Homo sapiens: one gene and its partner. The protein of the gene in region 1 purifies or fractionates together with the protein of each later gene. This does not show direct contact. Each region holds a gene or a part of one and is shown on either strand. Other genes may lie near its edges.

Region 1 (3,678 bases):
TCATTTTAATTTTTAAATTTTAACCTTCTCCCTGCCCCATTCCCCAACCTCTCTTTGAGTTGCTTCACCCACCGTCTCTGCAACCCTGGGGCTGTCTCTTTCCAGGTGGTTGTCAGTCTATCTCTCCAGTGCCTCTCTGTCCCTGTCTGGACCCTGCTGGGGGGCCACAGAGCAGGCAAAGGCAGGGCTCAACTGCCAGGCCTGGGCAGCCTTGGGGGCTCCCTGGGGCCAGCTTCCTGACACTTGCCCTACTCTGTGCTGCCCCTGCAGGTGTCTGAGATGCTGCCACCGCAGAAGAAGCCCTGGGAGTCCATGGCTAAGGGGCTGGTGCTGGGCGCGCTCTTCACTAGTTTCCTGCTGCTGGTGTACTCCTATGCCGTGCCCCCGCTGCATGCCGGCCTGGCCTCCACGTGAGTGGCCCAGCTGGGCAGATGATGGGTGTAGGTGGGGGAGGGATGGCACCCCACCCATGGGGCCCTGTAATTACCACAGGGCCTGCCCCAGTGATCTTGGGTAGCCACCCTGCACCCTGCACCATGCTGTGCCAGACAGAAATTCCACTGATGGCAGAGCTCGCCGTGTAACTCTGAGCCTTGGTGTGCCCATCTGTGAAGTGGGGATAAAAACAGAGCCTTTCGGCTGGGCACGGCAACTCACGCCTGTAATCCTAGCACTTTGGGAGGCCCAGGCGGGCAGATCGTCTGAGGTCAGGAGTTCGAGACCAGCCTGGCCAACATGGTGAAACCCCATCTCTACTAAAAATACAAAAATTAGCTGGGCATGGTGGTGTGTGTCTGTAATCTCAGCTACTTGGGAGTCTGAGGCAGGAGAATTGCTTGAACCCGGAAGGCAGAAGTTGCAGTGAGCCGAGATGGCACCACTGTACTCCAGGCTGGGCCAACGGAGTGAGACTGTCTCAAAACAAAAAGAAAAACAAACAAACAAAAAAAACCCAGAGCCTTCCTCATAGAGCATGAGAATCAGGTAACACTGTCTGTACAGGGCTCAGATTTGCATCATCTGAGATGCCAACGGGGCCCTGGTGGGGGCGACCTGTCCATGGGCATGGATTCAAACGGGTCGGTCTGACTCCAGGCCCAGCTCCTGAGAACCAGGCTCTCCCGTTTCCTCATGGGGCTGCTCTGCACAGACCCAGCACAGCCTGTAGCTGGTGCAATACCAGTGGTTGGTGATATTAACTTGACACAGAGGAAACTGCAAATTTCTGCAAAAATGGACCATTTTTGTCCTATAAAATGGCAGTTTCATGTGGCCCAAGCTGATACTGATTCATGGTACATGCAACACAGTGGCCATGAATGAGAGGAGAGCCTGTGTGCCTCATCTCACAACACCGTGAATAGGGCCTGTTATCGTCCCCATTTCACAGAAGAGGAACATGAGGCTAGAGAGGCCAAACCACCCGCGCAGGCACCCAGCCTGGACTCAGGCCCCACAGGTCTCACTATCCCAGCTCCTTTGCCACCACTGTTCCCAATAATCTCCCTCTCTAACTACCAGAGTCCTGAGGGCCCCAGCACCCCCCTGAGGCTCTCCCCACCTCTCTGTCCCCAGCAGGACCCCGGAGGCCGCAGCGTCCTGCTCTCCACCTGCACTCGAGCCAGAGGCAGTGATCCGGGCCAACGGCTCGGCGGGGGAGTGCCAGCCGCGGCGCAACATCGTGTTCTTGAAGACGCACAAGACGGCCAGCAGCACCCTGCTCAACATCCTGTTCCGCTTCGGCCAGAAGCACCGGCTCAAGTTCGCCTTCCCTAACGGCCGCAATGACTTCGACTACCCGACCTTCTTCGCCCGCAGCCTGGTGCAGGACTATCGGCCCGGGGCCTGCTTCAACATCATCTGCAACCACATGCGCTTCCACTACGACGAGGTGCGCGGCCTGGTGCCGACCAACGCCATCTTCATCACGGTGCTCCGCGACCCCGCCCGCTTGTTCGAGTCCTCCTTCCACTACTTCGGGCCGGTGGTGCCCCTCACGTGGAAGCTCTCGGCCGGCGACAAGCTGACCGAGTTCCTGCAAGACCCGGATCGCTACTACGACCCCAACGGCTTCAATGCCCACTACCTCCGAAACCTGCTCTTCTTCGACCTGGGCTATGACAACAGCCTGGACCCCAGCAGCCCGCAGGTGCAGGAGCACATCCTGGAGGTGGAGCGTCGCTTCCACCTGGTGCTCCTTCAAGAGTACTTCGACGAGTCGCTGGTGCTGCTGAAGGACCTGCTGTGCTGGGAGCTGGAGGACGTGCTCTACTTCAAGCTCAACGCCCGCCGCGACTCGCCCGTGCCGCGGCTCTCGGGGGAGCTGTATGGGCGCGCCACCGCCTGGAACATGCTGGACTCCCACCTCTACCGCCACTTCAACGCCAGCTTCTGGCGCAAGGTGGAGGCCTTCGGGCGGGAGCGCATGGCCCGCGAGGTGGCCGCCCTGCGCCATGCCAACGAGCGCATGCGGACCATCTGCATCGACGGGGGCCACGCCGTGGACGCCGCCGCCATCCAGGACGAGGCCATGCAGCCCTGGCAGCCGCTGGGCACCAAGTCCATCCTGGGCTACAACCTCAAGAAGAGCATCGGGCAGCGGCACGCGCAGCTCTGCCGGCGCATGCTCACGCCCGAGATCCAGTACCTGATGGACCTCGGCGCCAACCTGTGGGTCACCAAGCTCTGGAAGTTCATTCGCGATTTCCTGCGGTGGTGACGTCCCACCGCCCAGCGGCTTGCCTGCCTGCTCGCTCCCTGCAGAGGGGCTGAGCAGGACGCCGCTGGTGCTGGCCGCCCCCAGCCCCCTCCTGGTGCCACCTCAGACCCCGGGGTGAGGGGGGGCTCCCTGGGGGGAGGCAGCCAGCCAAGACTGGGCCCATGAACACAGAGAGGGCCTAACCGAGATCAGTATTTAACTAATTATACCAGTTTTTATTAAACCCCTTTCCCTCCCCGATAAAGAATGTTCTATTTCTGCCTCCCCTTAAAGGGGAGACCTCAGAAGTAAAGGAATTTGATGTTGTGTTTTTGTTAATCAGCCTCAGTGGTGGTGACTTGGGGTGGGGGTTGGGGTGGGGGGAACCCAAGAGACCACAGTGGTGCCTGGGTGAGTCTGTGGGCAGAGCCCAATGGGGTGGCAGGGATTTGATGTGTTATTTGCTATATGCTATAGTTCTATATGGTTCAGGGACTCCCATGAGCTACCAAGGCCTGGAAAAGCGCGTGTGTATGTGTGCGCTTGTGTGCACGTGTGTGCATGTGTGCATGTGTGTGTGATCATCCTAAGGAGTACAACAGAGTACAACAGTTACTCACTCTGACTGTGTGCCCGGCACTAGGCTAAGGGCATTATCTCAACCCATCTTCACCAAAACTCAGCGACCTGGGGACTGTTATTGTCTCATGCTAGAGACAATGAAGGGTGCTCAGAGAGGGACAATCACTTCACCAAGATCACACAGCAAGTGGTAGGACTAGAGTAGGGGGCTGGGCGGGTAGAGGGTGTGGCCGGATCAGAATAGAGAGAGAGAGAGAGAGGGAGGAAGAGACAGGGAGGTGGCAGGGGTGGGGCCACTCAGTAGGGCATTGCCAACAGGCCCTGGGCCCAGGCTAAGGGCTTCTTGCACAGACTTCATTACTCCTCACAATAACTGAGGTCGTTATAATTACCGTCCC
Region 2 (3,747 bases), on another chromosome or scaffold:
TAAAAATAAGAACCTATTATGTGCCAGACTCTTGCTGTCATTGATTGACAGATAGATAAAAATTTGCACCTATTATGTGCCAGGCCCTTGCTGTGATTGAAAGATAGATAGATGGATGGATGGATAGATAGATAGATAGATAGATAGATAGATAGATAAAAATTAGCACCTGTTAAGTGCCAGGCCCTTGCTGTGATTGATTGATGGATAGATAAAAATTAACACCAATTATGTGCCAGGCCCTTGCTGTGATTAATTGATCGATTGATAGATTGGTTGACAGAGAAAAATTAGCACCTATTATGTGCCAGGCTCTTGGTGTGATACTGTGTTAGATAGATAGATAGATAAAAATTAGCCCCTCTAGGCCGGGCGCGGTTGTTCACGCCTGTAATCCCAGCACTTTGGGAGGCCAAGGCGGGTGGATCACCTGAGGTCGGGAAGTTCGAGACCAGCCTGACCAACATGGAGAAACCCCCGTCTCTCCTAAAAAAGAAAAATTAGCCGGCTGTGGAGGCGCGCGCCTGTAATCCCAGCTATTCAGGAGGCTGAGGCAGGAGAATCGCTTGAACTCGGGAGTCGGAGGTTGCTGTGAGCCGAGATCGCGCCATTGCACTCCAGCCTGGGCGACAGAGCTAGACTCAATCTCAGAAGAAAAAAAAAAAAATTAGAACCTATTACGTGCCAGACCCTCGCTGTGCCATGTTGGCAGGCACAGAGGGAACTCAGACTCCGTTACTGCTCTCAAGCAGCAGCTACCAGTCCGACTGAAAGACCAAGACCAGGTCAGTTTCTTTTTTTTTGAGACGGAGTCTCGCTCTGTCGCCCAGGCTGGAGTGCAGTGGTGTGATCTCGGCTCACTGCAAGCTCCGCCTCCCGGGTTCACGCCATTCTCCTGCCTTAGCCTCCCCAGTAGCTGGGACTACGGGCGCCCACCACCACGCCCGGCTAATTTGTGTTGTATTTTTAAGTAGAGACAGGGTTTCACCATGTTAGCCAGGATGGTCTAGATCTCCTGACCTCGTGATCCGCCCGCCTCGGCCTCCCAAAGTGCTGGGATTACAGGCGTGAGCCACCGCGCCTGGCCCAGACCAGGTCAGTTTCTTAAGTGATCTGAGCTATAATGGCGGTAACAGAGCACTGTGAGAGCCCGCAGAAAGCTCCTAACCCATCTGGGATGAGACCTAGCGCTTCCAGGACGAGCCGATGTTGAGCTGAGACCTCGAAGGACAGGTTAGTCATTCACCTTCTCCCGGGCTCAGTTTCTTCGTCTGTAAAATGGGCTTTCATACATAAACTATAAAATGGGGACTATTTTGTTCCGCCTTAGGTGGGTCGCAGCAGGAGGACTAGTCACTCCGGAGCGACTTCTAGGCTGAGACTAAGGAGATTCCACGCAGGTCCGCAAAGTCAGGCTTGCGCTTGCTCCTGACACCACTTCCTTTACCTCCACGGCTCCATCTTTGTTCTGCGCGAGTGCGCACGCGCAGGCTCCGAAAGCGGGCCGTCGCACAGAGGGACCACAACTCCCAGAGTGCTCCGCGTCCTTGCTTTCGCCTCTACTTGTGCTCCAGGGCGCACGCGCAGCCCTGGGAGCGGGTTCTCGCGCATAGGGACCACAACTCCCAGGGTGCTCCGCGTCCTCGCCGCTGTCGCCGCCGCGGAGACAAAGATGGCTGCGAGTAAGTGCAGGTGCCGGTGGCGCACGGGGCTCGGGTAGTTCTGGGAACCTCTGGGCGGTCCTGGGACTGAGGTGCGGCAGGGCAGGGGTGGAAGCGATGGGGTCCGTGCTGGAGGGGAACGCAGAAGTCACGAGGGGGCTCCTCCAGGGCAGGGGTGGCACGAGAGGGTTAGAGGTCACCGGGGGCAGCTACTTGCAGGGGTGACGCTTCTTGCCACCCCTTCAGGAGTCGGCGCCTTCCTCAAGAATGCCTGGGACAAGGAGCCAGTGCTGGTCGTGTCCTTCGTCGTCGGGGGCCTCGGTGCGTGAGTGCTCCAGGCGCAAACTTGCATCGTCCACCCCCGTCCCCCTACATCCCTCCATCTTGTACCCCTAAAGCCCTATCGCCGCCCTCGGGTCCCCTCTAGTGTGTCTGCACCCCCACGGCATCCCCTTATCTATCCCCATACCCATTATAACCTCTCCACCATCGCCCCCCGCGTTCCTCTCCACCTACCCAATACGCTCTTAACCCCTCTAAATGAGACGTTCTCAACCCTGCTTATGCCTTAACACCTGAGCACCAAAAAAAAGTCCAGATCCTCCTCCTCCTTTTCATCTTTCCTCTCCCCCATTCTGAATTGAGTTGGCTTGGGTGGAGGTGGGACTGGGGAATCTGTGTCTTGTGAAAATCCCCGTATGATCCCAATGTGCCTTGCTGATTGAAAATCTCTGCCCTCTGCCCTGGAACTGCCCTACTCACACTTTAATTAGCACCGGAGTTCCTGCAGGGATGGGGGCGGGGGATTGTTAAAATGTAGCTTTTTTTTTTGCGATGGAGTCTCACTCTCACCCAGGCTGAAGTGCAGTGGCGCGATCCCGGCTCACTGCAACCTCGGCCTCCTGGGTTCAAGGGATTCTCCTGCCTCAGCCTCCCGAGTAGCTGGGATTACAGGCGCCCAGCTAATTTTTTGTTTTTGTTTTTGAGACTGAGTCTCGCTCTGTCGCCCAGGCTGGAGTGCAGTGGCGCGATCTCGGTTCAGTGCAAGCCCCGCCTTCCGGGTTCACGCCATTCTCCTGCCTCAGCCTCCCGAGTAGCTGGGACTACAGGCGCCCGCCCCCATGCCCGGCTAATTTTTTGTATGTTCAATAGAGACGGGGTTTCACCGTGTTAGCCAGGATGGTCTCGATCTCCTAACCTCGTGATCCTCCCAACTCGGTCTCCCAAAGTGCTGGGATTACAGGCGTGAGCCACCGCGCCCGGCCAGCTTTTTTTTTTTTTTTTTTTTGAGATGGCGTCTCGCTCTGTCTTCCAGGCTACAGTGCAATGGTTTGATCATGGCTCACTGCAACCTCCGCCTCTAGGGTTCAAGTGATTCTCCTGCCTCCGCCTCCCAAGTAGCTGGGATTACAGGCGAGCACCACCACGCCCGGCTAATTTTTGTATTTTTAGTAGAGACAAGGTTTCACCATGTTGGCCAGGCTGGTCTTGAACTCCTGACCGCAAGTGATCTGCCTTCCCAAAGTGCTGGGATTACAGGGGTGAGCCACTGCGCCCGGCCAAACTGTAGGTTCTGATTCTGTAGGTCTGGGGTGGGGCATGGGATTCTGCATTTTTGAAGAGTTCCCAGGTCTTGTCAGTACTGCTGGTCCACCAGCCAGGCACTAGGTTAAGGTTCTGAACACTTATTCAGTATGGCAGCCACCAGCCACAACTGGCCACTGAGCATTTGAAGTGGTGCTGGTATGAATTGAGGTGGTATAAGACACTGGATTTCAAAAACTTAGTATAACAGAGTGTGTAAACTACCAATAATCTTTTGTTGATTACATGGCGAAGTGATGTTTTGGATGTACTATGGTTTTTTTTGTTTGTTTGTTTTTGTTTTTTTGAGACGGAGTTTCGCTTTTGTCCAGGCTAGAGTGCAATGGCCTGATCTCGGCTCACTGCAACCTCCGCCTCCCGGGTTCAAGCGATTCTCCTGTCTCAGCCTCCTTAGTAGCTGGGATTACAGGCGCATGCCACTACACCTGGCTGTTTTTGTATTTTCAGTAGAGACGGGGTTTCATCATATTGGTCAGGCTGG

The links. Proteins that work in one complex are often made in the same cells at the same time.
Region 2: the proteins of GAL3ST1 (region 1) and NDUFA3 purify together in Homo sapiens (affinity purification with mass spectrometry; 3 studies listed by BioGRID and IntAct, with this or other methods). This does not show direct contact.

What each region holds. Positions count from the first base shown.
Region 1 is NC_000022.11:30,553,994-30,557,671, reverse strand, and holds the end of GAL3ST1 (galactosylceramide sulfotransferase), read left to right. Parts: intron 1-270; coding exon of another isoform or gene 271-279; coding exon 280-410; intron 411-1,575; coding exon of another isoform or gene 1,576-1,578; coding exon 1,579-2,719; 3' UTR 2,720-3,037; downstream 3,038-3,678. UniProt on the Homo sapiens protein: Catalyzes the transfer of a sulfate group to position 3 of non-reducing beta-galactosyl residues in glycerolipids and sphingolipids, therefore participates in the biosynthesis of sulfoglycolipids.
Region 2 is NC_000019.10:54,101,207-54,104,953, forward strand, and holds the start of NDUFA3 (NADH dehydrogenase [ubiquinone] 1 alpha subcomplex subunit 3), read left to right. Parts: upstream 1-1,648; 5' UTR 1,649-1,672; coding exon 1,673-1,682; intron 1,683-1,907; coding exon 1,908-1,982; intron 1,983-3,747. UniProt on the Homo sapiens protein: Accessory subunit of the mitochondrial membrane respiratory chain NADH dehydrogenase (Complex I), that is believed not to be involved in catalysis. Complex I functions in the transfer of electrons from NADH to the respiratory chain.